Regions from separate parts of the Homo sapiens genome. Here regions 2, 3, 4 and 5 are each linked to region 1. Evidence: fine-mapped expression QTL. A gene starts in region 1. Each other region holds a variant in brackets. All regions are shown on one strand. Distances are between the middles of the regions.

The links. PIP is the estimated chance that this variant, and not a neighbour inherited with it, causes the effect. A credible set is the group of variants that fine-mapping cannot tell apart.
Region 2: its variant is the best candidate, but not a certain one, in a credible set for the expression of GALNT10 in whole blood (INTERVAL, PIP 0.86).
Region 3: its variant is the best candidate, but not a certain one, in a credible set for the expression of GALNT10 in whole blood (INTERVAL, PIP 0.60).
Region 4: its variant is the best candidate, but not a certain one, in a credible set for the expression of GALNT10 in whole blood (TOPMed, PIP 0.68).
Region 5: its variant is the best candidate, but not a certain one, in a credible set for the expression of GALNT10 in whole blood (INTERVAL, PIP 0.86).

What each region holds. Positions count from the first base shown.
Region 1 is chr5:154,188,185-154,193,287 of GRCh38, reverse strand. It overlaps GALNT10 (polypeptide N-acetylgalactosaminyltransferase 10), which reads right to left and starts at 2,555. Exons shown (of 12, transcript NM_198321.4): 1 at 2,263-2,555. The coding sequence starts at 2,421. LOC124901118 (a long non-coding RNA gene) reads left to right here and starts at 3,209. Exons shown (of 2, transcript XR_007059010.1): 1 at 3,209-3,292. RefSeq lists silencers at 2,260-2,319, 2,390-2,469, 2,560-2,669, 2,680-2,779, 2,870-2,959 and an enhancer at 3,180-4,145.
Region 2 is chr5:154,415,436-154,420,538 of GRCh38, reverse strand. It overlaps GALNT10 (polypeptide N-acetylgalactosaminyltransferase 10), which reads right to left. Exons shown (of 12, transcript NM_198321.4): 11 at 4,607-4,756; 12 at 1-3,725. The coding sequence ends at 3,567. The region is part of intron 2 of SAP30L-AS1 (SAP30L and GALNT10 antisense RNA 1); the gene reads left to right. Among named protein-coding and RNA genes, the nearest start is that of SAP30L-AS1, 28 kb to the left of the region's middle. The variant T/C (reference allele first, on the strand shown) is at 3,224.
Region 3 is chr5:154,427,779-154,432,881 of GRCh38, reverse strand. The region is part of intron 2 of SAP30L-AS1 (SAP30L and GALNT10 antisense RNA 1); the gene reads left to right. Among named protein-coding and RNA genes, the nearest start is that of SAP30L-AS1, 15 kb to the left of the region's middle. The variant TGTG/G (reference allele first, on the strand shown) is at 2,086.
Region 4 is chr5:154,270,231-154,275,333 of GRCh38, reverse strand. The region is part of intron 1 of GALNT10 (polypeptide N-acetylgalactosaminyltransferase 10); the gene reads right to left. Among named protein-coding and RNA genes, the nearest start is that of MIR1294, 74 kb to the left of the region's middle. The variant T/CCT (reference allele first, on the strand shown) is at 2,877.
Region 5 is chr5:154,076,787-154,081,889 of GRCh38, reverse strand. No RefSeq gene overlaps it. Among named protein-coding and RNA genes, the nearest start is that of MFAP3, 40 kb to the right of the region's middle. The variant G/A (reference allele first, on the strand shown) is at 2,045.

The DNA of each region.
Region 1 (5,103 bases):
CAGATGAATGCTGAATCCTGTAGCACCTAGAAGAGCTTATCATTGGGGAAACAGCTCCATTCTGCTGCTCCCATGAAGCAAAGAGATTTTCTTTAAAGCAAGAATAATCAGTTGGTATTCCCCCCAAACCCCCAAACCCCCTTCACCACTTCTTCCTCCTCCTCTTCATGCTATTCCAGAGAAAAAGAAATGAACAAAAACTAGATCTTCCCAGATGAGCCTGTCTATCCATTTCAGTTAGGGGCTCTGAGCAGCACCCAGCTGTTGCTCCCCTCTCTCTCCCTGCCCAAAAGTCTGCCTTACTCTATCAATACCCTCTTGCACAAGTGAGTAATTTACTTTGAAAGCTCAGGCCAAACTGGCAGTTAACCTTGACCTTCTCTACCCATCTGGGTCTACAGAAATGAAAATCAGGATGTCTTTGGCATCTATTGCAAATGAAATACGAGGTCTTTCTCCAAGCAGAGGCAGAATGTCAAGCACTATTTTAGAATGGGCTACAGCTATTCTAAAGGAGAGTTTGCACTAGGGTAGGACACTCCCCCTTGACCTGGAGCTGTGTCCAGTATGGAGCCTCCACAGCTAGGGATGCTACAAGGAACTCTGGACTCAAGACAGAAAAAAAGAAGGGACCGTTGTATTCCTCATTGATTAACTGATAGTATCACAGAATGTTAGAACTGGACCAATAATCATGGTTTACAGACCAAGAAAGTAAGGCTCAGAAAAGGAGATGAAAGGTGATCAAGGACACACACAGTAAGTTAGTGGTAGAGCTGAGGTCAGAACCCTGGAACTCCTGACTCTGATGCTGGTACTGAATAGGAACAGAGGAAAGAGATTTCATGAACGGAAAATCCATACAGATACAGAATTTCAGGGAGAGAGGTCTAAGCTAGCTGTCAGGGTTTGAACCAGGGGTTTAGGAAAGAGATGGAAACCTTAGTTTCTAAACAGTAAGCTCTACCAGAAAGATCAATGAGACCCTCTGGGATGCTTTGCAGCAATTAACAGAGTTACAGGCGGAGCTCAAATTGGTCAGCTCTGTAGCAAAGAGCCCTCTGTGCTCCAGATGCCAGACTGCCTAGACAGCAGCCTGATACTGGGAAGAATAAGGAAAACCATCAATCTCAGAAAAGCCAGCCTCTTTCGTCGAGGCCAGCCAACAGTCAGTCAAGTCTGACCCTGATACACAAATTATCCACTTCTCATGGGACCAGAGAAATCCCGTAAGAAAGCCTGAAATGTTCCACTATATGAAACAGTCTAAGCAATACACTCACTAGCACCTCCTGGGAGGGTGGGAGTGATGTGACAGAGCTTCTGCTATGAGGGAGCTGCTAGTCTAAATGCGTGCACGCACACATACACACAAACATACGTGGGTAAGTTCAAAGGAGGCAGAAACCATTCCGATCCCAGTTTTGGCTGCAATAAACACTACAACTAACCAGACTAGACAAGTTCAGAAGAGATAGGGAAGGCTTCTGGTGTTCCATCCTCAGGACACTGGGCACCAATAGCCTCTGGGACATTTTGGGGGTCCCCCCACCAGAGCCCCACCTCTGGACTCCCATAAGGTCAAAGGCAGCAGGTCCCTCAAGGACCAGGAGCTTACCCCCTTCTCCACCCCCAGGGGCTTGAAGCTTTAAAGGGAGCATGATCTTTACATTCTGCAAGGAATCCACAGGATCTGAGAAAGGAAAAGGCTAGAGTTGGGGCGGGGGTGTTGAATAAATGGGGAGAGGAGGAAGGCCCGGGTGTCTCGTTGGGCAGATGAGAAATCAGGAAAAGGGCTGACCTGAGCAAAGAACACTGGGATCAGCAGGTAGGGGTTGTGGGGGGGGGGGGGTGGGAGGAGGGAAGCAGAGAGGACCTGGACACCAAATAGAAGAACCAGAATCTTCATTCCTATTGGCACAAGGCAGGAGTCATCCTGGGATACAGGGATGCAGATAGGATCCTTCAAAAGAGATCCGCTGGAAGACGTCAAGGAATACCAGACGGGGACAGAAAGGAAGGTGGTAACATGTGGTGAGAAATAGCGTCCTGAGTGCTAGTTCGGACTCAGTCTCTGACTGGCGTGGGACCCTGGACAAGTCCCGACAGGACTTAATTTTCCCATCCGGAAAATGGGAAGAGCTGAAGAGTCTCGGAGCTGACTCTGAGGAGGCAGACAGCAGAAGGTGGAGGAAGGAACCACAGGCTAAAAGTGAATTCGGGAAGGGGGTGTTCCCGGCCTGTAGCAACGGGGGGACTCACCTGTCCCGCCGCCGGCGCCACCGCCGCCCCCGATCCCCCAGGGGTGCCGTCGGGCTGCCGCTCGCGGTACAGCGCCCAAAGCCCCACGTTGGGCAGGAGGACCAGGGCCGCCAGCACCAGCGCCACCGCCTGCAGGAGCCGCTTCTCCTTCCGCCTCATCGGGGCCGGTCAGCCCCGCCGCGCCCCGCCGGCCCCGCCGCGCCGCCCCCAGCTCCGCGCGTCCGCCCGTCCGCCCGGCGGCGGCAGCAGCTCAGCCAGCAGAAGCGGCTGCGGCGCCGGCCCCGCTCCAACTCCGCGGCACTTCCGCCGCTCGCCGGCCGGGGAGCTGGGCGCCGCCACCACGCCGCCGCCACGAGGGGGTCGTCGCCGCCGCCACCGCCCCCGGGCCCCGCCGAGCCGCCCGCCCCGCGCCGCCTGCCCCCGCGTCGACCGCCGAGTCTCTGCGCTGCAGGCTCGGCCCTCTCACGGAGCGTCTCGGCCCGCCCGGGCGCTGCAGGATGCCGGGCCGGAGCGCTTCCCCCCTCTCGAGCCGCGATGGTCCGTCCCACTCCTCGGCGGCTCCCCCGCCCTCTGGAGCTTTGCGAAAGTCCCGGAGTTGGCGAGTTGGGCGCTAACTGGTGCGGGCTGGGCACCGCTGGGTGGGGTGCATGTCCGCTCGCCCGGGTACCCTGCCGCCCCGCCCGGCAACCTCCGCCCGGGACTGCAGCCGAACCTTTGCTGCCTCCCTGGGGATATGCAAATAGTGCTGGGGCCCCGCCGGGCGTTCTGAGCCTGGAGCCCCCGGGGCTGTCACTTCCAGCCCACCTAGGCTCGGCCCCCAGGACCTGCGGACCTACTTTGACCCCGGCGACTCGGTGTTCCCGGCCATGAAACGGGGCCACAGCCGTGCTGCACGCTCACTGTTCCGCGGGCGGGCCCTGGTTTTCTTCCTCTAGGGGGGCCCTGGCGTTAGGTGTGAACGCCCTCTGCAAACTGTAGGGAGCTGTGCCCGGCCGCCGCCCGTCTGTAGATCCTGCAAACCGGCGGGTGGGTAAGTGACGGTAGCCTCTCTGCAGCACCTTTCCTCACGCAAGTCCAACCCCCTTGGAGTTAGAATGCCCTGCATTCTCACGCGTGCTTTTGGATCCTAAGCGCACTGAGCCCTTCCCGGAAAGCTCTCAGCAAACCGTTGGCGAGCGCCACTATGTGCCAAACACTGTGCCAGGCTCTGGGATGAAATGAAAACAGACCTGAGCCCTGACGTCTGGGAGCTGAAACATGAAACACGTAATTTCACTAGACCAGGCAATGTGTCTGTAACTGTGGCGAGGGCTTTGACAGAGGAGTCGGGCTTCTGGGCGATGCGGAGGGCCGTGGAGCCGGACTCCGACGGTGATGCCAGCCAGCGGCTCCTCCTCGGGGCGCTCGACGCTGGTCACTTAGCTGCCTCCTCCCTGATGCGGTGGAACGGAGCACCCCCTTGGCTACCTTACTCTCTGCCACCCCCACATTCGTCCTCTTGATTCTCTGCTTCTCTAGCTCAGCCGCTGACCTTCGTGCCTAGCTGCCACTAGTCCTTGACCAGCGTTCTGGCAACTCTTGCCTCCAAGTTCTTCCAGCTCCAGGCTGAGCGATGGGGATTCAGTTTTCTGACATCACAGCTCAGTTCTTGATTTCTGCAGCAAAACCTTCAAGGCTTCCATCACCTCGGCTCTAGAGTCCATCATGCTCCTCTCCTATGACCTGCTAGGGCTGATCAAACGTTCTGTCTCCTGCCGTGCCCTGCCCTGCCCTGCCCTGAGCTTCGCTTAGCCTGTTGCAGGCTTTGTGTTTTCCTTCTTGTGCTGTTGACCACGCAGCTCCTTCTACCCATAAAACCCCCTTCTCTAGGTCGGTGGAAATCTTGTTCATCCTTCCGTGTCTAGTTAAACTGCCACCTCCTCCACGAAGCCTTCTAAAACTCCTCCTCAGGGAACTGTTTTCTTTCTTTAGATTTCCATCACAATAATGCTTACCTTTTATTGAGTGCTTACTCTATGTCAGGCAGCCCTTGAGATGCATTACCTCTTTAAATGCTCACAGTTACCCTGTGAGGTACATGCTTTTCTTATACCCATTGGCGAATGAGAGTCAGATTTAAAAATGCATGTAATCCCAGCACTTTGGGAGGCCAAGGCGGGCAGATCACGAGGTCAAGAGATCGAGACCATCCTGGCCAACATGGCGAAACCCTGTCTCTACTAAAAATACAAAAATTAGCTGGGCGTGGTGGCGGGCACCTGTAATCCCAGCTACTTGGGAGGCTGAGTCAGGAGAATCGCTTGAACCCAGGAAGCAGAGGTTGCAGTGAGCCGAGATCGTGCCACTGCACTCCAGCCTGGCAACAGAGCGAGACTCTATCTCAAAAAAATAAATAAATAAATAAATTAATTAATTAATTAAATAAATAAAAGAATGTGGCAGCCAGAATGATCTTGTTTTATCCAAGGTTAGATTGTATCGCCCCTCTGCTCAAATCCCTGTAGTGGCTTCCCACCTCTCATTAGGTTCCTAAGAAAGTACAGGACCCTACAAGCCCATATGTGATCAGCTCTCACTCCTTACTGTCCTTATTGTGCCCCAGTGACATTGGCTTCCTTGTTGTTCCTCAGAGCATCCCTCAGGCAGGCACAGTCCTGCCTCAGTACCTTTGCACCTGTTGTTACCTCTGCCTAGAATGGCCATTTTTCTATTTCTAGCTCCTAACTCTATGTCTTTTTTAAACACATTTTTTTGTGATAAACGTTTGTAAAACTGATCATTTGAACTATTTTAAAGTGTACAATTCAGCGGCATTATGTAAATGCACATTGTTCTGCAGCC
Region 2 (5,103 bases), 230 kb before region 1:
ACAAAGCTTCAGAAAACATTAAAAATGCATTACCTCCTAGGAATTACAAAAGATCACCCAACTGTACAAACTAGATATCGCTGAAGCAGAGACTCTGATTCCTCAGTTACTACTGTAAAGTGCTTTGCCACTCTTTTTGAGACTCCAGAGACTAGGAAAATGGAGATGCACAGAGAGACATAAGGAGCTGTTTTCCAAGACATCACCTGTTTCTTAAGGAAAAAAAGAAATTCAACTGGTGGGAAGTTTGAAAAGTGAATGTCATGTAGACTTTGGAAATCCATTTGTTACATCTTTAACAGAAACTGCTCTTTCTCTCCTGGACCGAATGTCACATCCTCTCGTCCGATTCCTCCTGTGGATGTACCCCGTTCTGCCTGAGCATTTTTTCCTAAAGGGAAGAATCAATAGTTTCTGACTGTTTTAACAGCTGAAAGCTCCAACTGGAGGCAGAAGATGGGATGGCTTTTCACACACGTGCGTGCAAGTTTAGCCACCTCCAAAGGCCTTGTTCTTAAAGCAACAGTGCTGTTTGCATTATGAAATGTCTCTGGAGTTCCCCTTTGGAAAGGCTGCTGGTGGGCCACATGGTCACGATACTTTCAAGTCACACCCTACTTTGTGACCTTATCCTCAGAGTAAAGGCTTTAGAGGAAAAGGGACCCCACAGTCTCACCCATTACCTGGCTGTCAGCATCTCCATATGCTCCTGGCTGAGTTTTATTGAGCATCAGCTGGGGATGTGAGCAGAAACCTGAATCCTTGAGACAGGTGGTTTTCAAAAAGGAAGCCATAACAATGAGTGGCTTAGTACTGGCAATTGATCAGTTGGTCCATGAAATGGAGCCAGTCAAGTTCTGTCCTTCCTTCCCCTCCCACATACTTTGTCAAGTCCCAGGACCTACTGATATGGGCTCAGCAATGACAAATGCCAGAGTGCTCAGAGGACACACCCATCCCTTTTCAGGGTGTGAACCCAGACTGGAAAGGAGAACCAAAGGATGGGAAAGGCAGGCCCGGGACGGCTTGCTGCTGCTCCTGCTTTCACAGGAATCCTGGTCATGCCAGGAACACTGCCGCCCACTTGGGGTGGGACTATGTGGAAGTCTAGCTAGTGCTCGGCACCCCTTAACCCAATGGTGAGAAACAGGACAAACATGCTGGGGGTTCAGAGGGTGGACCGCAGGGATGGCCCCCAAACAGGTCCCAGTGAGGTAATGCAAGGCCTCCTCTCGGGGGCTGATGAGGTCTTCTAGGCCACAGACTAAACGCACTGCCCAGCCTTTAGTTTGGAGTGTGACTTGCACTGACTGAAATAAATCTGACCTGTCACCCTTGGGGGACATCTCAGTCTCAGATCTTGCTCCAGACCCAACATCTCCTGCTTGAAATGAGACATTAAGAAACACACACTCATCCAGTAGGAACTGCACACACCACCAAAAACGTTCCCCTCCCCACAACCCTGCCCCTTTATGTTTGTCTAGCAAGGCACTAGGAAATGGTTCAAGTTTAGGGATTTGCTCTATATTTGCATTTTTCTTTTTAAAAGGCACAGTTTTTATTTTAACGACGCTGCATTGCTCTTTGATGATGAATCTCAATTCGACTCCTCAAACTGTCAACACTCTTGTTATCCTAGATTCTAGAAGGGGCCTCATCTTTTGACTTCTTTCTATAGAGGGCCACTTCTAAAGCTACAGCACTCATTTGGAAAAGGACACTGGGATCAACACGTAAGCGTTGCAAGCACAGGGGCCGCCTCTCTTGCAGACAGGTGGCCAAAGCAGGGCTTGTGCTGGGCCAGAAGTGGAAGTAATTCCTCGCCAGCTACACATTCAGTCTGACTGGTGGATGATTGGGAGTGTTTGTCCCTCCCTCCCCCAATAATTGATGGCCTTGAGATCTGCCAGCATCTCAAAGGCAGATTCGTGGCTCTGTTCCCAGACTTAGGTCTCAGTTATTTAATTGGTAAATGACACAATCAAGAGACTCAACACTAATTGGAATGCTGATTTCAAGTATTTCCTGGGCTAGCTGGTGGAAGCCATAGATTGTGGAATGTGATTTCCATTTCTGAATCAGTGGGTGGCAGGTTGGTTACAGAAATGCTTCCTATTAGTCTGGAGGCCCTCTAGGAGTCTGACATGTAATTAACAAAGCAAAAGGTAAACATGAAGGGCTGGCATGGAGCTGGGTGTATATCTGGCTGTGGGACGTCGGGTTCTTTTCTCCACTGCAAATGAGACTACAGTTGTGATGATGGTGGGAGGTTCCAGGGGTGCAGGTCTTCACCAAGGACCATGTTGTACCACAGCCTCTGCTGAGCTGAGGGACACATGTCCCCCTGCTTTCCCAACACCACCAACTTTGGATTTCACAGATTGTCTCTAGGCTGGGGGCTGCCTTGACTGTATTACACCTGGCTGGCTCCTTTAATCACAGCATTCTAGAAATCCATATTGGATGTGGAATACCAGAATCCTATGTAGCATCCTAGTTTGCAATCCAATTATAGAGTTCTTTAAAAATTCTGGAGTTCTGTATGAGAACTAGAACCATGATGAGGTCAGAGGCAGGCACTTTGCCCACAGTTGATCCTGGAGGCCTCCAGACTCTGTGAGGTGAGCACCTCGCAGCACCTCTGTTCCTCTTTTGAGGCCAGTAATTGCCTGGGGAAGAGAGACAGGGAAATGGAAGCATGGATCAGGGCAAATCAGCCAGCATTTCTAGTTTGGAGGTCTACCTGGCCTTTTCCGTGGGCTCAGGGCCATCTGAAACACTGCCCTGTAAAGCTGGTGCTGGGCTGTCCTTGTGCCTGGAGAGTGCTAAAATTGACATTTCAAATACCCAGAGAGCAGGGGGAGATATCCCGCATGTCCATAGCTGCAAAGAAATGTCTAGGGGGGCTCCCTCTTCTGACTCCTCACCTGGCAGCTGATCAGCATTCAATACTGAACACTCTTAGGGCCCCAAGTATGGCCTTTGACCGGACCAAATCACCTGGGGTTGTGACAGAGAACAGAAGCTGTGCAGTAACTGCAATGTTCCCCCCAGGACGGCAGAAACTAAAAAGCCCCAAGAGGACTTCTTTCTCTTCTGCTGCAGATGAGTGGCATCGATACTAAAAGCTGCCCCAAACAGGCAAATTTTACCTTTGTTTCTAAAGCACCATCATGTAGGAGAGCCATCTGAGGGCTGGGCAACCTCGCAGGACTCACTT[T/C]TGGGTGGCCTAGGCTACCTTGGTGTTCTCCCACATAATGTTCAAGGGGACATAGTGACAAAGTTGAAAAGGCTCTGTTGCTTTTCCGTGATGTCAGCAGGGATTAAAGCAGTCTCTGCTCCCTGTGGGGCCTCTTGTGGGATATGCTCTTCACCCTACCCCCACAACTCAGGGGCTCAAGGACCAGGCAGACCCCAGCCCCTGAATCAAGAGCCCTCTTCACCCTGAACCATTTGGCCAGCACCTTTTACACCTAGTGCCCACAGGGGCCCTGCCTCCCTTGAAAGAGGAAGTCTGCAGTGAGTGCCAGACCCTGGGGGGCCTGCCAAGGGGACATGAGGGCTCAGTTCCTATTGAATTTTTCCAAGACTGTTGAGTTGGTGTGTTCAAACAGCCACTGCTGGGTGAGAGAGGATGGGTTGCAGGTGTTCATGAAGATCCTATGGTCACTTTCACTGCAGTCCATGCAGCTGCCACTGACAGGGTGGTACAGGGTCTTGTCCTACAAAACATGGAGGTAATAAGCCAGACAGCACTGGAGACATGTGGCCAGTCAAACCACAGCAACAATACCAGCAATGAGAAAGTGAGGAAGTGACTGACTGACTAGCTGTTCATACACCTGTTGGTTTTCCTCCTGAGCTCACAAGCCGGATGCTGCCCAGCCTCCCTTGCAGCTGGTATTGCCGTGGGACTGGGTTCTGCCCGCTGGGATGTGGCCAGAAGTGATGCACGCAGCTTCCAGGCCTGGGACCTAGACACTGCCCACCTCCTGTCAGACCTCACTGGTCCTTATCGTGTGTGTGTGTGTGTGTGTGTGTGTGTGTGTGTGTGTATGTGCTTTCCTTTTATCTTTTATTTTTTTAATTTTTTTAATTTTTTTGAGACAGGTTCTCACTCTGTCACCCAGGCTGGAGTGTAGTGGCACAATCTTGGCTCACTGCAACCTCTGCCTCTCAGGTTCAAGTGCTTCTCCTGCCTCGGCCTCCCGAGTAGCTGGGAGTACAGGCATGAGCCACCATGTCTGGCTGATTTTTGTATAGAGACGGGGTTTCACCATGTTGGCCAGGCTAGTCTCGAACTCCTGACCTCAGGTGATCCACCCACCTCAGCCTCCCAAAGTGCTGGGATTACAGGCATGAGCCACTGTGCCCGGCTGCACTTTTCTTTTTAAATGGAATCAGTTGCCAACATTTAAGACTTGAGGATTTCACAGTGAAGTCTAGATTTCTGACTACTCTTGAATGACTACAAAATCCGGCATGGTAGGTTTGTGGCACAAATGAATAAGTGGATGGGCTCTGTTGAAAGAAGGGGTGAAGCACTGTATTGCCTTAAAAAAAAATTAAGCAGGTGCCCTGCTCCCCCCGCATCCCATCTTACTTTGCGGTATTTCCACAGCTGGTTGCCCTTCATGCTGTGGCAGTCGTACAGCGTGACAGGGCTGGTGTGGGAAATGGCATCAAAGCAGAACTTCTTGGTGTGCTGGGGGTCTCCAGGCCGGATGTCCTCTCTCCAGGTGAAGGTGAATACCTGTGCACAGGGGCATCATAAATAGGGATAGCAAAGCCAAGGACTTTCTTTTTTTCTCCATTTTTTTTAAATTATGGAAAAATTTAAACTCAGAGGTCCAAATAATAATATATTAACCTGTTCTAACCACCTAGCTTTAAAAGTTACTAACTTGGCCAGGTGCGGTGGCTCACCCAGCAGTTTGGGAGGCCAAGGTGGGTGGATCACTTTGAGGCCAGGAGCTTGAGAACAGGCTGGCTAACGTGGTGAAACCCCGTCTCTACTAAAAATACAAAGATTAGCTGGGTGTGGTGGCGTATGCCTGTAATTCCACCTACTCGGGAGGCTGAGGCAATGAGAATCACTTG
Region 3 (5,103 bases), 240 kb before region 1:
TTGCACTTAAAAAAAATTCGTATGTTTTGAGACTGGTCTTACTCTGTCACCCAGGCTAGTGTGCAATGGCACAATCATAGCTCACTGCAGTCTTGACCTCCTGGGCTCAGGCAATCCTCTTGCCTCAGCCTTCCTAGTAGCTGGGACTACAGGCATGTTCCACCATATCTGCCTTTTTTTTGTTTTTTGTAGAGATGGGGTCTTGCTATGTTGCTAATACTGGTCTTAAACTCCTGGACTTAAATGATCCTCCTACTTCAGCCTCCCAAAACACTGGGATTACAGGCATTAGCCGCCGCACCCTGCTATATGGCACTTTTGAGATTACTTGAGAATGTGCATATGCACAGAGTGGTGAAGAAAATTCGAGTTGTCCAGCAGGCGCTGTCACAGACTGAATGTCTGTGTCCCTTCCTGAATTCATTTGTTGACATCCAAACCCCCAAATGGGAGATAGGGCCTTTGGTACGTGATTAATTCATGAGGATGGAGCCCTAATGAATGGGATTAGTGCCCTTATAAAAAGACACTGCAGAGCTCCCTCTTCTTTTCCACTGTATGAGGACATAGTGAAAACATGGTAGTCTATGAACCAGGAAGTGGGCTCTTACTAGATACTGACTCTGCTGGCACCTTGATCTTGGACTTCCCAGCTTCCAGGACTGTGAGAAATAAATTTCTGTTGTCAACCAGGTTAAGTTATTTTGTTATACCAGCCTGTAGACACACACGTTCACAGCTAAGGTCGAACCAGAGGACATCTGCCTTCTTGTTTCAGCTCTCATACTGTAAACAAGTGTCCTTTGGTGGTTTATTGAGTGCCACATTTTTCATATTTTTAAGCTTTTTGTTGGTGATTTTGGTTTACATGGTGCCCAAGCATAGGGCTGAAGTGCTGTCTAGTGTTCCTGAGCACAAGAAGACTGTGATGTGCCTTACAGGGAAAATATATGTATTGGAGAACCTTTGCTTGAGGCATGAGTCATAGTGCTATTGGCTGTGAGTTCAATTTAATGAATCAATGATAAATATTAACTAAGGTCTCTCTAAACATAAATGCATATAAAACAAGATTATGTATTGATCACTTGATTAAAATGTTGTGATCAGAGGCTTGCAGGAACGTACCCCTGTACTTCCCCTAGGGACAATAGTTCAGTATTCACTAACTGTGTTCATGGTGACTTACAGAACATAACTACCATGAACCATGACAATCGACTGTAAGTCAGGATACATGCCATGCGAGGAGCTACAGAGGTGCTGGAATGATTAAGAATGATGATGGGGGGATGTCTATTCTTAATAGGGTGGTCAAGGAAGCCTCTTGGGGGAGGTGACAGTAAAGCTGAAACCTAAAGGATGAAGCTGCAGAGCAGGGGGGAAGAGTATTCCAAGCTGAGGGAACAGGGTCCGAAGGTGAGAGAGCTTTGGACTCTGTGGGGAACTGGGGTCCTGCCAGGAGGTGATGGAAAAGTAGGCAGGGATCAGTCCCAACAGGCCTTTTGGGCCAGGCTAGGGAGTTTGGGTTTATTGTAAAGGCCTGGAGTAAAGTTACCTGTAGGCAGTGGTAATCAAGTTATTCTCTTTTAATTTGTGTGGGAACTCAAATCTGTTCTCATCACTAGGCCATAGAAGTTGCAGATCATCCCTTATGCACCTGGTATTTGCAGGGCCTAGGACAGAGCTGGGACCAATCACTGTGGGTACAAAATGCGAAACACCATGAGCCCAGGGTACCTATTTCAATCCGTGTTTGTTGATTAAATGACCAAGCCCTGGGATTCTGTGGCTGCAGCTGTGAAGAAATCATAGCAGAGATTTTTTCCCCAGATCCCAGAGAAACGCAGAATTCAGGCCTCTGCTTCCCAGGCTGACTGACAGGCCAGTGGTGTGGTGTGGGGGCTTAGCTCTGGGCTCTCATAAAGGCAGACCTGCCATCCTCTTCCTCCTACCCTCAGGCGGAAGCTGGCAGGAGATCAGACGATACTTGGATTCCAAGGAGTTCATGAACAAAGGCTGTAAAGTTGCTAAGAAACTGCCTTTCTGGGGGTTCACCATTTTTTTTTTTTGTTCCCGTGGTGT[TGTG/G]TGTGAGTGAGTGTGAGTGTGAGCACACCCAGGGCTGTCACTCTGCCAGGCCTGAGTGAAGTCACACTCGAAGGGAAGAACTGCAGGCTGCCGTGCAGGTGCAGCACCACCATGGACCCCAGGTGTCCCTAAGCTGGGCAGACCAGGCTTTGAGGATAACAAAAGTGGAACCAGCTGCCCGAGGCCAGAGGTTGGCAGAGCTGTGTGCAGCTGCAGCAGGGAAGCCTTGGATGTTGAGTGTTGGACCCACTTACAGCAAAAACCAAGAAGCCCTGGGTTGGGAGATACCAATAACAGAACTGGGAGGGAGTCCCACCCCTACCTCCCAGCTGAGCTTGGAAAGTAAATTCTTAACAAAACCAGGTCATTGCAAAATACAAGATGCAAGATTTATAGAACTCTAAGAGTCCAGGCTGACCATTATCTAACTTGCCTCCTTCTCCTTATTCTCATGTGGAGAATCCAAAGCCTAGGGAGGGGAAGGAACTCTCTTAATGGGATGTAGCATATATCAAGTGCAGGAACCCGGCCTATCAGAAGGGCTGTGGGCTGTGAGTGGAGGGAAAAAAGGCCTGGTGTGTACCTGAAAATATAGTACTCATCCATTTGTCCACTCATCAAGTACTTATTGAGCTTCTACTAAGTTCCAGGATCCCCTAAGCCCCAGTTCCAACCAAACAGAGAAAAGTAGAGCCCAAAACTTTGAGCAAATTGCTGGCTTCTCTGACTGTTTCCCAATAAGTGTGCCACTGCCAACCACCACCACCACCACCACCACCACAACAACAACAACAAAGCTCACACTCTGTGTCTAGCTCAGCATCTTAGATACATTGGATTCTACTCTCGCTTGCAGGCTTGGAAGGAGAAGGAGCTAAAATGGGTGAGAAATGTAATACCTACTCCCATTCTTCCACCAGCTCAAGGAAAGGATCTTGCCCCTAAGTGGTCAGTGTCTTTGAGGAGGCACCAGAGGTCCACTTGCCCTGGCTTGTTTCTCACTGTGTTTGCCCTGGGTGCCCATTATGTGCTAAGCAGTGGAGTAAGTCACTTCCTGGCTCCAGACATCAGTCAAGGGCATATCTGATAATCTCACTGTGCCCAGTTTTAAACCCTTTAATGGTTTCTATTACTCTTAAAATAAAGATCAGAGTCTCCTTAATGTGCCCCACAAGGGCCTATGGTGCTGGCTTTTGCCTACCCTCTCCCTGTTCTCCTCTTTCCTTCCTGTTCTCTGCTCCAGCCTGCCTGCCTTTCATGCCCGCCATACTCCCTCCATGGGGTCTTTGCACATGTTGGCCCCTGCACCTGGAATACTCTCCCCCTTTTGTTTCTTTTTTTCTTTTTTTCTAATAAAAGAATTTAATCTTTTTCAGGAAATGATTAAGCATTTTGGAAGTAAATATAGGTGAAAGTCTATCTTATTCATTGGTGGAAAAATATTTTTTAAACAAAACAAAGTTACAAAAGAAAATATCAATACATTTGGCCACATAAAATTTGTCCAAATAAACTTAAAAAATGCAAATATAGGACAGAGCTTTAACATCGACATATAATAAAACATTCTTGTGTATTGACCATAAAGGAACTAAAACTTTTAAAAATATATATTAAAAGATATAGGCCAGACCCACGCCTGTAATCCCAGCACTTTGGGAGGCTGAGTTGGGCAGATCACTTGAGGTCAGACCAGCCTGGCCAAAATGGTGGAACCTTGTCTCTACTAAAAATACAAAAATTAGCCAGGTGTGGTGGCACATGCCTATAATCCCAGCTACTCAGGAGGCTGAGGCACGAGAATCGCTTGAACCCAGGAGGCGGAGGTTGCAGTGAGCCAAGATTGTGTCACTGCACTCCAGCCTGGGTGACAGAGCGAGACTCTGTCTCCACCCCCACAAAAATAAAATTCACATACCATAAAGTTCACCATTTTAAAGCGTACAATTCAGTGGTTTTTAGTATATTTACAAAGTTGTGCAACCATCACCACTTCTTTTTTAATTAATTTATTTGTCTAAATTTATGGAGTGCAAGTGTCATTTTGTTACAAACATAGATAGATTACATAGTGGTAAAGTCAGGTCTTTTAGTGTATCCATCACTGGAGTAATATACATTTTGCCCATTAGGTAATTTCTCATCCTTCACCCCCTCCCAACTCCCACCCAATGGAGACCTTCTGAGTTTTCATCGACTATTACTTCACACATATTAATGTGTAATAATGTACATATTATTTAGCTCCCACTTATAAGTGAGAACATGCAACATTTGTCTTTCTCTGTCTGATTCGTTTATTTTGAGTTAATGGCCTCTAGCTCCATCCATGTTGTTGCAAAATACATTATTTCATTCCTTTTCATGGCTGAATAGTATTCCATTGTGTGTGTGGGTGCATGTGTGCATGTATATATATACACATATACACACACAATGGAATACTAGTATATGTGTGTGTGTATATATACACACACATGTATACGCACATACATGTATATATATATGTATATACAAACACACACAGGGTAGATACTGTTTTACATAAAGGTTATGCTAATTAACATTCCCACCAACAGTGTATAAGAATTTCCTTTTCTCCATATCCTAGCCAACATCTGTTATTTTTTTGTCTTTTCAGTAACAGCCATTCCGATTGGTGTAAGATGATATTTCACTGTGGTTTTAATTTGCATTTCTGTGATGATTGGTGATGTTGAACTTTCTTCATATTCTTGTTGGCCATTTGCTTTTCTTTTTTTGAAAAATGACTATTCATATCCTTAGCCCACTTTTTGATGAGATTGTCTGTTTGGTTGTTGAGTAGTTTGAGTTCCTTGAAAATTCTGGATATTAGTCCCCTGTTGGGTGTATAGTTTGCAAATATTTTCTCCCATTCTGCAGGTTGTCTGTTCACTCTTTTGCTATGCAGAGGTTTTTTTCTGTTTTTTTTTTTTTTTTTTTTGAGATGGAGTCTCGCTCTGTTGTCCAGCCTGGAGTGTAGTGGCGTGATTT
Region 4 (5,103 bases), 82 kb before region 1:
ACTATCCTCAATTCCCCTATCTATCTCATTGTGAACTGGTGCTGGTCTGCAGACTACATTTTGAGAGGCATTGCTATAAAACATCTCTGGGCCAGACCCATTTTTATTCATCTCTGTATCCTCCCACGTGCTTTTTAGAATTCCTGGAAATAGGAGCAACTCAGTAAATGTTTATGAACTGAATAGAAGACCCAAAGAAAGCTGAGTCTGGAAGCTCAACTCATTCGTTTTATAGACGGTGATGTGGTAGTCCAGAGAGGTGAAGGAGTACACTCAGGGTCATGGAATGAGCCAGTGTCAGAACCAGGAGAAAGCCACAGAATTCCTGAAACCTTCCAATCCAGACGTTGGAAACTCAGCTGCTTATGTATGTTGTGAAGGGGGAGTGGCCAGGTGTAAGGCACTGCAGAAATATGATGGCTGGGGGAGAGGCGAGTGCATGCATGCCCATGTGAGGGGCAGCTGCTACCCCAGCTCCAGCCAACTGTTGCCAAGTGAGGGCCAATGGAACTAGATGTTCATTTTTCAAAGAGCAGCTGGAAAATTCAGATTTCTAGGGGCTATTTCTTGATTTTTAGTTTATTACATTAGATAAACAAACATGTTTGCAGGCTAGATTTTATCTAGCAGGCCACCAATTTGCAATTCCTGAGCTGGTTGAGTACCTGTAATTTACAGATAAGGAAAAATGAGGTCCTGAGAGGTTACAGGTTTCACCAAGAACACGTAGGAAGAGGTGGCAAGGCCATTTTCTGACTTGTCCAGGAATTTGGTGACGATGATGGTGACCCACATTTATTGAGCTCCTATCATGGGCAAGGCAATATACCAGGCACTTAGACCTATAGTTTCATTTAATCTTTTCAACAGTTGCAGGAAGCAGGCACTAGTAGTTCTCCTTTTTACAGACTCCAAGAAGCTAAGTAACTTGGCAAGATAGTAGCATAAGTAAGCAGCAGGTCTGTGTTCATAAGCATGTTTTTACAAGGGGAATGGTTTTCTATCACCTTACACCATTTCAATGTCTCTTTAGCATCCTACCTATCAAAGCCCCAGGTTCAGTTTTACCTGGAATTGTTGCAAAATCCACCTTCTAACATTGTCTATCATTTCAACCCAGAAGTAACTCAAGGTTGACCTGTTTCCTGTCCTCCAGAATCTGAATGACATTCAGCCTGTACACAGCTCATCCTCCCCAACTGTTGACTCTCCAAAGGGCCAGAGTGTGTCTGCAGCTACTGCAGTACAAGCAGCAGCTTAGGCTACAGGGCTAGAATGCCCTAGCTTTCTTTGCTAAATAGAAGGGAAGCATAGAATTGAAGAGGTGAAAGAGGCTCCAGAGAAATCATATAAACCTATTATTTTCAAACTACATTCAATGGATCTCTGGAGATGCAGCAACTGGGAGGCGGAGGGGGAGCCCGGCAAGAGGGGCCCCAATTTCTTCTTTGTGATACATTAATTAGGCTTTCAAATAAGATTATGTGAAAAGTGTTCCACTGCTTTAAAAAACAAGTTTGAAAACCAATGATCTAATCCAACTCCTTCACGGCATTTTTAAAATGCCAAAAACCCTATAATTTGATTTGCAATTATAAAAGTAATAAAGGCACATGGTGAAAGATGCAGCCAAAAGGGTACAATGAAAAATAAAAATTTCTCCCTACTCCCAACCCTTACTCTCACCCCCTAGAGATAACCACTATTAACAACTGCTTGTGTATCCCCTCCAGATTTTTTAATAAACAAACTGAGCCCCAGGGATTGGCTTGTCTGAGGTTATTTGGCCAGGCTCAGGGCTATTTACTGGACATTATGCTCCTGGCAACCCTCTCTCCTTTTATAACTTGCAAAAGTCTGAAATGTTTCCACAGATTGCAAACTCTCTCCCCAGTCCACTTGCAGCATGAGAAACCATACATTATGCATCTGCTGGCCTCACTCCCTGAACAGGAAGCTTACACGTCTTTTTCATGTGACTTTATTTCTCCACGATCTTTGTTTCATATGGTGGAGAAACCACCAGAATCAGGTTCTCAGTGCCGGCCAGTGTTCAAGCCAGGAGCAGCAGCTATAAAACTGCATGCTCAGCAAGTAACTGGGCCACTAGACAGGAAGTCAGGCTTGAACCAAATTCCTGCAAGGGGCCACACCTCTATATCTGTGACCTCAGAAGATCCTCCTCCAACAGCTTAGGTTCTTCTCTGAGTGCAGTGTTAACCTCTCCACTCCTCTCCTGGCTCTGAGGCCACTCTCTCCCTAGTCCCAGTCTTCCTGCCTGCCCTCTTGGCCTCAGCTGACCCCTCGCCCTCAGCATTCCCCATCTGCAGCCCCCTTTCCTAACCACCAGAAACTGCAGATCCACCTCCAGGCTGAGCCCATTTCCTACCGTCTAGAGTACACAATTCAAGGTTGCAGTAAGCTATGATCTGGCCCCTGCACTCCAGCCTGGGTGACAGAGTGAGACCCTGTCTGTAAAAAAAGAGTACATATAAGACAGAGCACTCCGAGCCTCTTTCTCCCATAGAGAAGACCTGAAATGCTAACACTTATTGGACTCTCTATGTTCCAGGCTCTGCGCTAGGCAATTTCAAGTCCTTATCTTCACCACAAGCCTAGAGGGTGGCACTATTATTATCGTTCCTATTTTATAGATGAGGAAACTGACATGGAAGTGGTAGCTGGGATAGGAACATGGAGCTGGCTAACGCAAGGTTCAGGAGGGATTTGCTCAAGTTCCTGATGCAGGTGAGTGGCGCTGACCCCCAGGCCTCTGATGTCTGCCCACTATACTCCATTACACTGCCCACGTGGTGTTCCTGGAGGGACAAAACACCCACAGGTAACCCTGGCTGACTGTTACCAATTCCCCTCCC[T/CCT]GTTATCCATAGCCTAGTTCCTTTTTGAGGCTCCTGAAGAGGACCCTGAGCCTAAAAGAAGGCCATAGATCTGGGAAGAAATTAATCCCACATTACTTGTCAGCAGTGGCACAGACTCCCTGCCATTACCTAGGTTACCTGACTGGAGTTTAAGCCACTACCGATCACTCCCCTATTTACCTTAATTAATCAGATTGGCATGGCTCCCTCAGGAGGGGTGCTCAGACCTCCCTGTGCCCCTGGGATAAGTGAGGAAGTTGGGGAGCGCTTCTTGGCGAAAAGACCTAAGAATTGCAGGGAGGCAGCCCTGGAGGCCAGGGCGGGTAGGAACACTAACAGAGGGGCCGCCTGCACCAGGTGGGACAGAAGAGGCTCATTCCCAAGGGTATTTACTTGCCAGGAAATATCAACTATCACTCAGAAGGCAAAAATATGCTGCCAGGCAAAGCATAATTATAAGTTGTATTATTTGAGCTATTCATAAGGAAGGCATGAGACCTGAGAAAATAGCTGTCTCATACGTGAAGGGCCTCATTTCATTTTGCATGCTTTAAAAAATTATGCAGGAAGGAGGCAGAGCAGCAGCTGGAGGTAGGGAGGAAAGCCTTTCCTCTGCATACTGCAGAAGGCTTATTTTCTAAGAAACACTCTATTGGATGACCTGAACCTCAGCGTGGACTCTACCTGCATTTCTGGCTTTTGACTCTTTCCTCTCTAGGTGTGCATTTTAGTTTCCTGAAGGAGTCACAGATGACTGGACATGTGGCATCCACTGGGACATTGTCTAAAATATGTCAAGGCTCAAAAGATGCAAGATTTATAGACATAATGACTTCTGCTTCCTCACCAGATAGAAATGAACACATAATGAGAAGGACAGACAGACAGACACACCCACACACAACCCCTTGGACTTAGAAAGCTTGAATGCAGCAAAATCATCTAAAAGAGGCTTTGGCTCTATTATTTTTATTTTATGTATTTATTTTTTGAGACGGAGTTTCGTCCTTGTTGCCCAGGCTGGAGTGCAATGATGCAATCTCGGCTCACTGCAACCTCTCCCTCTGGGGTTCAAGCGATTCTCCTGTCTCAGCCTCCCAAGTGTCTGGGATTACAGGCACCCGCCACCACGCTGGCTAATTTTTGTATTCTTAGCAGAGACGGGGTTTTATCATATTGGTCAGGCTGGTCTCGAACTCCTGACCTCAGGTGATTTGCCCACCTCAGCCTCCCAAAGTGCTGGGATTACAGGGCTTTGGCTCTATTATTAAACCCTTACAGCAAGCACCACCAGATCTACATACAGCCCCAGCCTCATTTACAGGACTCAAATATCTGTCCAGGCTATTGTTTCTTTGGACATACTACTTGTCCACTTTATCCTTTTTTAAGGCATCCAGTGGGCCACACAAGCAAATGAATTTAGACTGGCCACTTGGTATCCCTTTTTTTTTTTTTTTTTTTTTGAGATGGAATCTTGCTGTCACCCTGGCTGGAGTGCAGTGATGTGCTCTCGGCTCACGACAACCTCTACCTTACAGGCTCAAGCGATTCTCCTGCCTCAGCCTCCCGAGTAGCTGGGACTACAGGTGTGCGCCACCACTCCCAGCTAATTTTTATATTTTTAGTAGAGATGGGTTTTCGCCATGTTGGCCAGGCTCCTCTTGAATGCCTGACCTCAGATGATCTGTCCATTCAGCCTCCCAAAGTTTTGGGATTACAGACATGAGCCACTGTGCCCAGCCAGGAGTTCCAATTTCACAAGTGACCCTGAACATGGTGTGTAATGACCAGGCCTCAGTCTCTTCATCTGGAGAAGAAGGAGGATACTTCATCCAGCTGACTGGAGGATCAAAGGGCAACATGCATAGGAAAGCGTTTTGTAACGTGAAGGACCATGCACATGGAAGTGCTCATCATCGTCCTCTGAACTGGGTCACCCGTGACACCAGTGGTCTCATGTTGTTCAACCAGGGATGCAGAAATCACTCCATTTGCCTCTTATTGTTCTGTAAAAGGCCTGTCAAGCACGTGGGTCCAGGCCATCTCCAGCCTGGCCCTGCCCTTGTTCTTAAGCAGAATGATGCTAACTTTGATTAACCATATAACTGGGTATCCAGTCACACAATTAGACTACATAGAACTAAGTAAAATAATAGAGCTAGATCTAGTATGCATGAGGAATGCCTACTCTACTGTTCCAACTTCAGGGCACACCGCAGGAAAT
Region 5 (5,103 bases), 110 kb after region 1:
TGATGCAAGAGAGCTGGGCTTCCATAGTCCTGCCCTTGTCAGTACTGGCTTTGAACACTTTCAGCTCTCTAAAAGTGAGGGCAGAGCAGATCCGGCAGCCCCAGGGCAGGCCTCTGAAGAAAGTCACAGATGTGAGCCATTAGGAGCGGAGCACACAGAAGCTGGCAGACGGATCACAGAAGGGGTAAAGGGGATCTGAGGGGCACTGGTTGGGGCATCGATAGTGCCCACTACAGATGGGGACTCCCTGAGGACAGAGGTTTGGGCCTTGCAGATGACTTTTGCTTCACAGTGTGTGCAGAGCCTGTGGGAAAGAATTTTAATCAAGACAGAGAACAGGTTCTTAACCTGCTCCTTGCTGGCAGTGGTGGCTTTTGGCCACAGATGTCTCCATCAGCTGCCATTAGGAAGGGCTGACAGATGGTTCAAATCTCTGTGGATGCCTGGGGAAAAAGGATGCATCATTTTGACCACGTAGGAATTCTTGACACACAATGAGGAATGAAATATGAAGATGTTGTGCGAGGTCCATGCCCCTATGATCTGACATGTAGGAGAAATTCTTGCCCCTTGCCTTCTCTTACTATAAAGTTTTCCTGAGGCTACATGTGAGGAAGTGCACAGAAAAGGCCTGCAGAGAGTCAGACCTCTGTTCCAATCTGGGCTTTACCCCTTACTAGCTGCATGAATTAATCTTTCTGAATCTCAAGTTCCTTACATATAAAATAGGGAACAATTATACCTATACCTATTAGGGCTGTATTGATGAGAGAAATGAAATGTTTTTGAATTTCAGTTTCTTAATCTATACTATAAAGTGTAATAAAATTAATAAATGATGATGATAACTCCTTCTCAGGATTGATGTGGGGTAAAAGAACTAAATATAGCAGATTAATAGGATAAGTTATTGCACCTGGCCTATCCTGGGCATCCTCTACCCCACAACTTTTTTTAAATGTGAGAAGAATGGGGTTTTCCACTCTTGCTGCTTCTAGTCAGGTTACTTTTCATATAGGCTTGGCATCCATTTGCAGTGCTGCACCTTGTAATTTTTCATAAAAATCCTTCTCTTTTTTTTTCCCCAGCCATCATGAGGTATGGCCACAGCTGTCTCTGGGTGAGCAGACACAGAGCCCTCCAAAGGGAGAGAAAACCCATCAGAAGGCCTGCTGGGCCCAGGTGGAATCGCTGTGAATGAGGACATGTCAAAGAACTTATCTTTCTCCTGTAAACACCTTGGACCAACCCAGACCTGTTTAATTTCTAGGCAAGAAGCACAAATTGAATCCTGCACTACATGCATTTATCTCCTCACCTTTTTCGGCAGGAATCTAGATAGGAATTAATAGACTCACTCAAAGAGGAAAAGACATAGTGGGTGCAGTGGAGTCCTTTGTCTTTACGGGGCTTGAAAGGGTGGATCTCTAACACGTCTCATTTAATATTGGCTCGAGTTAAAGTATAGTAAATTCCAGGCCAAGAAGAAGAAACTAGGATGCCACAGAATGTTAGAGATAATTTAATTTAAACTCCTTACTCAATAGATAGAGAATCTGAGCTCAGGGAGGGGACAATCTGTCCACAGCCATATACCAAACTGCTGCTGGCTGGGCTGAGGGCTACGACACCTTACTCCTGGGCCAGTGCTCTGGGCAGGGCTTCCTATCTCTGTCATTCATTTCTTTTTTTTTTTTTTCTTTTTTTGAAATGGAGTCTTGCTCTGTTGCCCAGGTTATAGTGCAGTGGCACGATCTCAGCTCACTGCAACCTCTGCCTCCTGAGTTCAAGCAATTCTCTTGCTTCAGCCTCCTGAGTAGCTGGGATTACAAGTGTGCGCCACCACACTCAGCTAATTTTTGTATTGTTAATAGAGATGGGGTTTCACCATGTTGGCCAGGCTGGTTTTGGGCTCCTGACCTCAAGTGATCCTCCTGCCTCAGCCTCCCAAAGTGCTGGGATTACAGGCATGAGCCACTGCGCCTGGTCTCTGTCATTCATTTCTGTACCACGGTCATGATTTGTGTCATATTTACACACCCTC[G/A]GCACCATTATTAACATGGTCTTAATATCTGAATCGACTGTATTTTTTTATCCTTAAATAAATTTCTTTTGAAAGGAAATTGCTGTGAAGAGAAAACAAGGATTGTTTTCCACAAATAAAAGGTGACCACAAAAAATACATGCTATGAAATGAAGCAATACATTTTAAATATATTAAATTTTAAATATAATTTAAAATTTAAGTTTAAAAGTTTAATTTAGAAGTTAAATTTTAGCAAGGTACTGCTGTGTGTGAAAAGACTGTTCACTCTCTCTGTTAAAAGGGAGATTTGTCATGTTAAAGTGAACTTGAAAGGGAATGGCTTTCTCACCATAGGAGAGGATGTTTCTTAATAAGGTGTTTATGAACCATCTAAAATTGTCTCTCATATCATGAGTGGTCAAGTTGATCAGGAAAGAAAATGTGTTTGCAAACTTCCAAGGAAATGTAATACTTGACACTACTTGGGTTAGAATCCCAACTGTGCCATTTACCAGCCACTGGATCTCCAGCAAGTTATTTAACCTCTTTCTGTCTGTTTCCTTACTCATAAAATAGGAATAATTGTGTATATCATGGATTTATTGCAAGTACAAATAAGATATACATATAAAGCCATAGAACGGCACTCAGCATAGAGTAAGCACTCAGCACCACGTATTCTTGTAATTATCATTATTAAAACTTAAAGTGGTATTATGCCCTAGAGCAGGGTTGCAACCTTTTTCTGTAGAGGGTCAGATAGCACATTATTTTACCCTTTGCAGTCCATACAGTTTCTGTTGCAACAATTCAATCTTCCATAGTTCCAAGGAAGCAGACATATTGCATACATATATTAATGGGCATAGCTCTGCTCCAGTAAAACGCTACCAGAATAGGTGGCAGGATGGTTTTGGCTGGTGGGCCATGGTTTATGCTACAGGGATATAGTTATGTAAAACAAAAAACAGGCCAGATGCTTTGTACACTATTTTCGAATGAGGTAGCGTCATACTTCATACCTTAGCCCAAATCCCAATCTTTTGAATTCAATCCCATGCACCTGAAACGTAGGTTCTAGTCCAGAAACTTTGGTCTCACTACCTGCTATCATCTTAACTGCTGCCCAAATGGCCATGAGACTAAACAGCTCTTGAACTTGAAGCAGAATAAAGGTTAAAAGCATGGGCTTGGGAATTAGAATGACTTGGGTTTGCTGCTCACCCTGCAAAGGGTATTATTTTCTTTTTACACAGGAGGAAATTGCAGCTCAGTGGGGTGGAGTAATTTGCCCAATGTCACATAGCCAGCAAATTGACATCAGTTCCACAAACATGAAATTTGGTTCTAATCCAAAAACCCTGGGGCCAGCTGCATGTCATCATGATGCTTCCTTTTCTTGTTTCTAATTTCCATGATAAAGAGGGGGAGAGCTTGAGAAGGATTTAGAGTGGGAAATAATGCCGATGGCTTAGGACAACATTTTGATCAATGGAGGAAGAAGAATGCAGTCCCCAGAGACCATAAGATATAACTGAAAGAGCACAGGGCTAGATCTGCTTCTTCCCTTACCAGTGAACCCTGGATGTGTACCTGGGCAAATGTAATGATAAGAGGCAGCATTTATTGAGTTCATATGGAGTGCTTTCTAATACCTTTATCTTATTTTCCCTTCACAACAACTCTGAGATTTTAATCCCCATTGCACAGATGAACAAGGTGAAGCTCAGAAAGGTCATTTAAATTCCCAGGGTCATAGAACTAGTGAGTGGTGCAGCTGGGATTTGAATGCTAGTCTGTCTGGTTACAAGTCCAGGTTTTTCCAATGCAAAACATCCTCAAGAGTCTACTTTCCTGCCTAGGTGAGTCCACAAATGAAGTTGTACAATGTATGCTCTGTAACTTTAGAATTGGAGGTGACTCACGTTGCAATCTTACCATGTGCTTGGCAATGTGCAAGGCCAGTCCTTCCAAATGACCCTGTGAACTCAGTGCTAATAGTATTCTCTATCAGTAGATTTGGCAACTGTGGCTCATAGACCTTAAGTAACTTGTTCAAAGTCATTCAGCTAGTAAGAAACAGGCTGGGGTTTGAACCCAGGTCAAATCCACTTCAAAGCCTGTGCTCCTAATAGGATGACCAAATAGTTTGTCACCCAAACCAGGACACTTTTGAGAGTGAAAGGCACTATTAATAATTATGTCAAGACAGCAGGCATAAACTTCAGTTCTTGACTACTGTGCTTATCCAAATGGGCTCTTTCTATCCCTCAGACCACCATGAATCATAACGTGGAGAAGAAACCCATTACATCTGGCACCACCATCATTTTCATTATTACCATTTACCTAGACAGCATTGTAAGAAAGAGGTAAAGTCCTGTGGGAATGAGGCATTTGAAACTTGGTGCTTGAGAATTTTAGAAAGGGGTGAATGTAATTGCCTCGGGAGTTGCTATAAGAAGCAGTAACAGGGCAGCTGGGACCCTCCTCGCCTTTCCTGCACTCTCTTGACTGCAGGCACTGGGTGGAAAGGAGAGATGGATTAAAAGAGAGCTCCAAGGAAATGGAGATGAATGCCTTTAGATTTGGTATGATAAGAAGAAGGGCATTTCTCAGATACATAAAAGAGACCAGATCATTATCAAGATAGTGCTTGAAAACACACATACCTCTAACCCAGGACTAGTATCACATGGTGGCAATGGTGGTGGTTGTCTCAACTGTACTCTTGGAGGTGTGCTGGGAGGATTTTCTGCTTCAGAATTCCCAGAATTCTACCTTAAGTGCCTTAACCTTCGAGTAAAGGTTCATTTCTCTAGGAGATCAGTTTTAAAAAGAAACCACCATAGAACCATTTGAGTCCACTATCAGTCATGAACATGGGGGAGTTTATTACATAGCAGACTTTCTTTTGAATCTTACAGTTGTTTAGGATGTTGGAAAGGTGAGTTTTGATAGAGAAATGGGCATAGGGGAAGCTTTGGGACCTGGGTTTTTGCCTAGAGAAGGCACCTTAGTGTGGGGTCGTGGGTAGCCAGAAGCCTAAGTGGTACACAGCAGAGCAAGAGTACTGG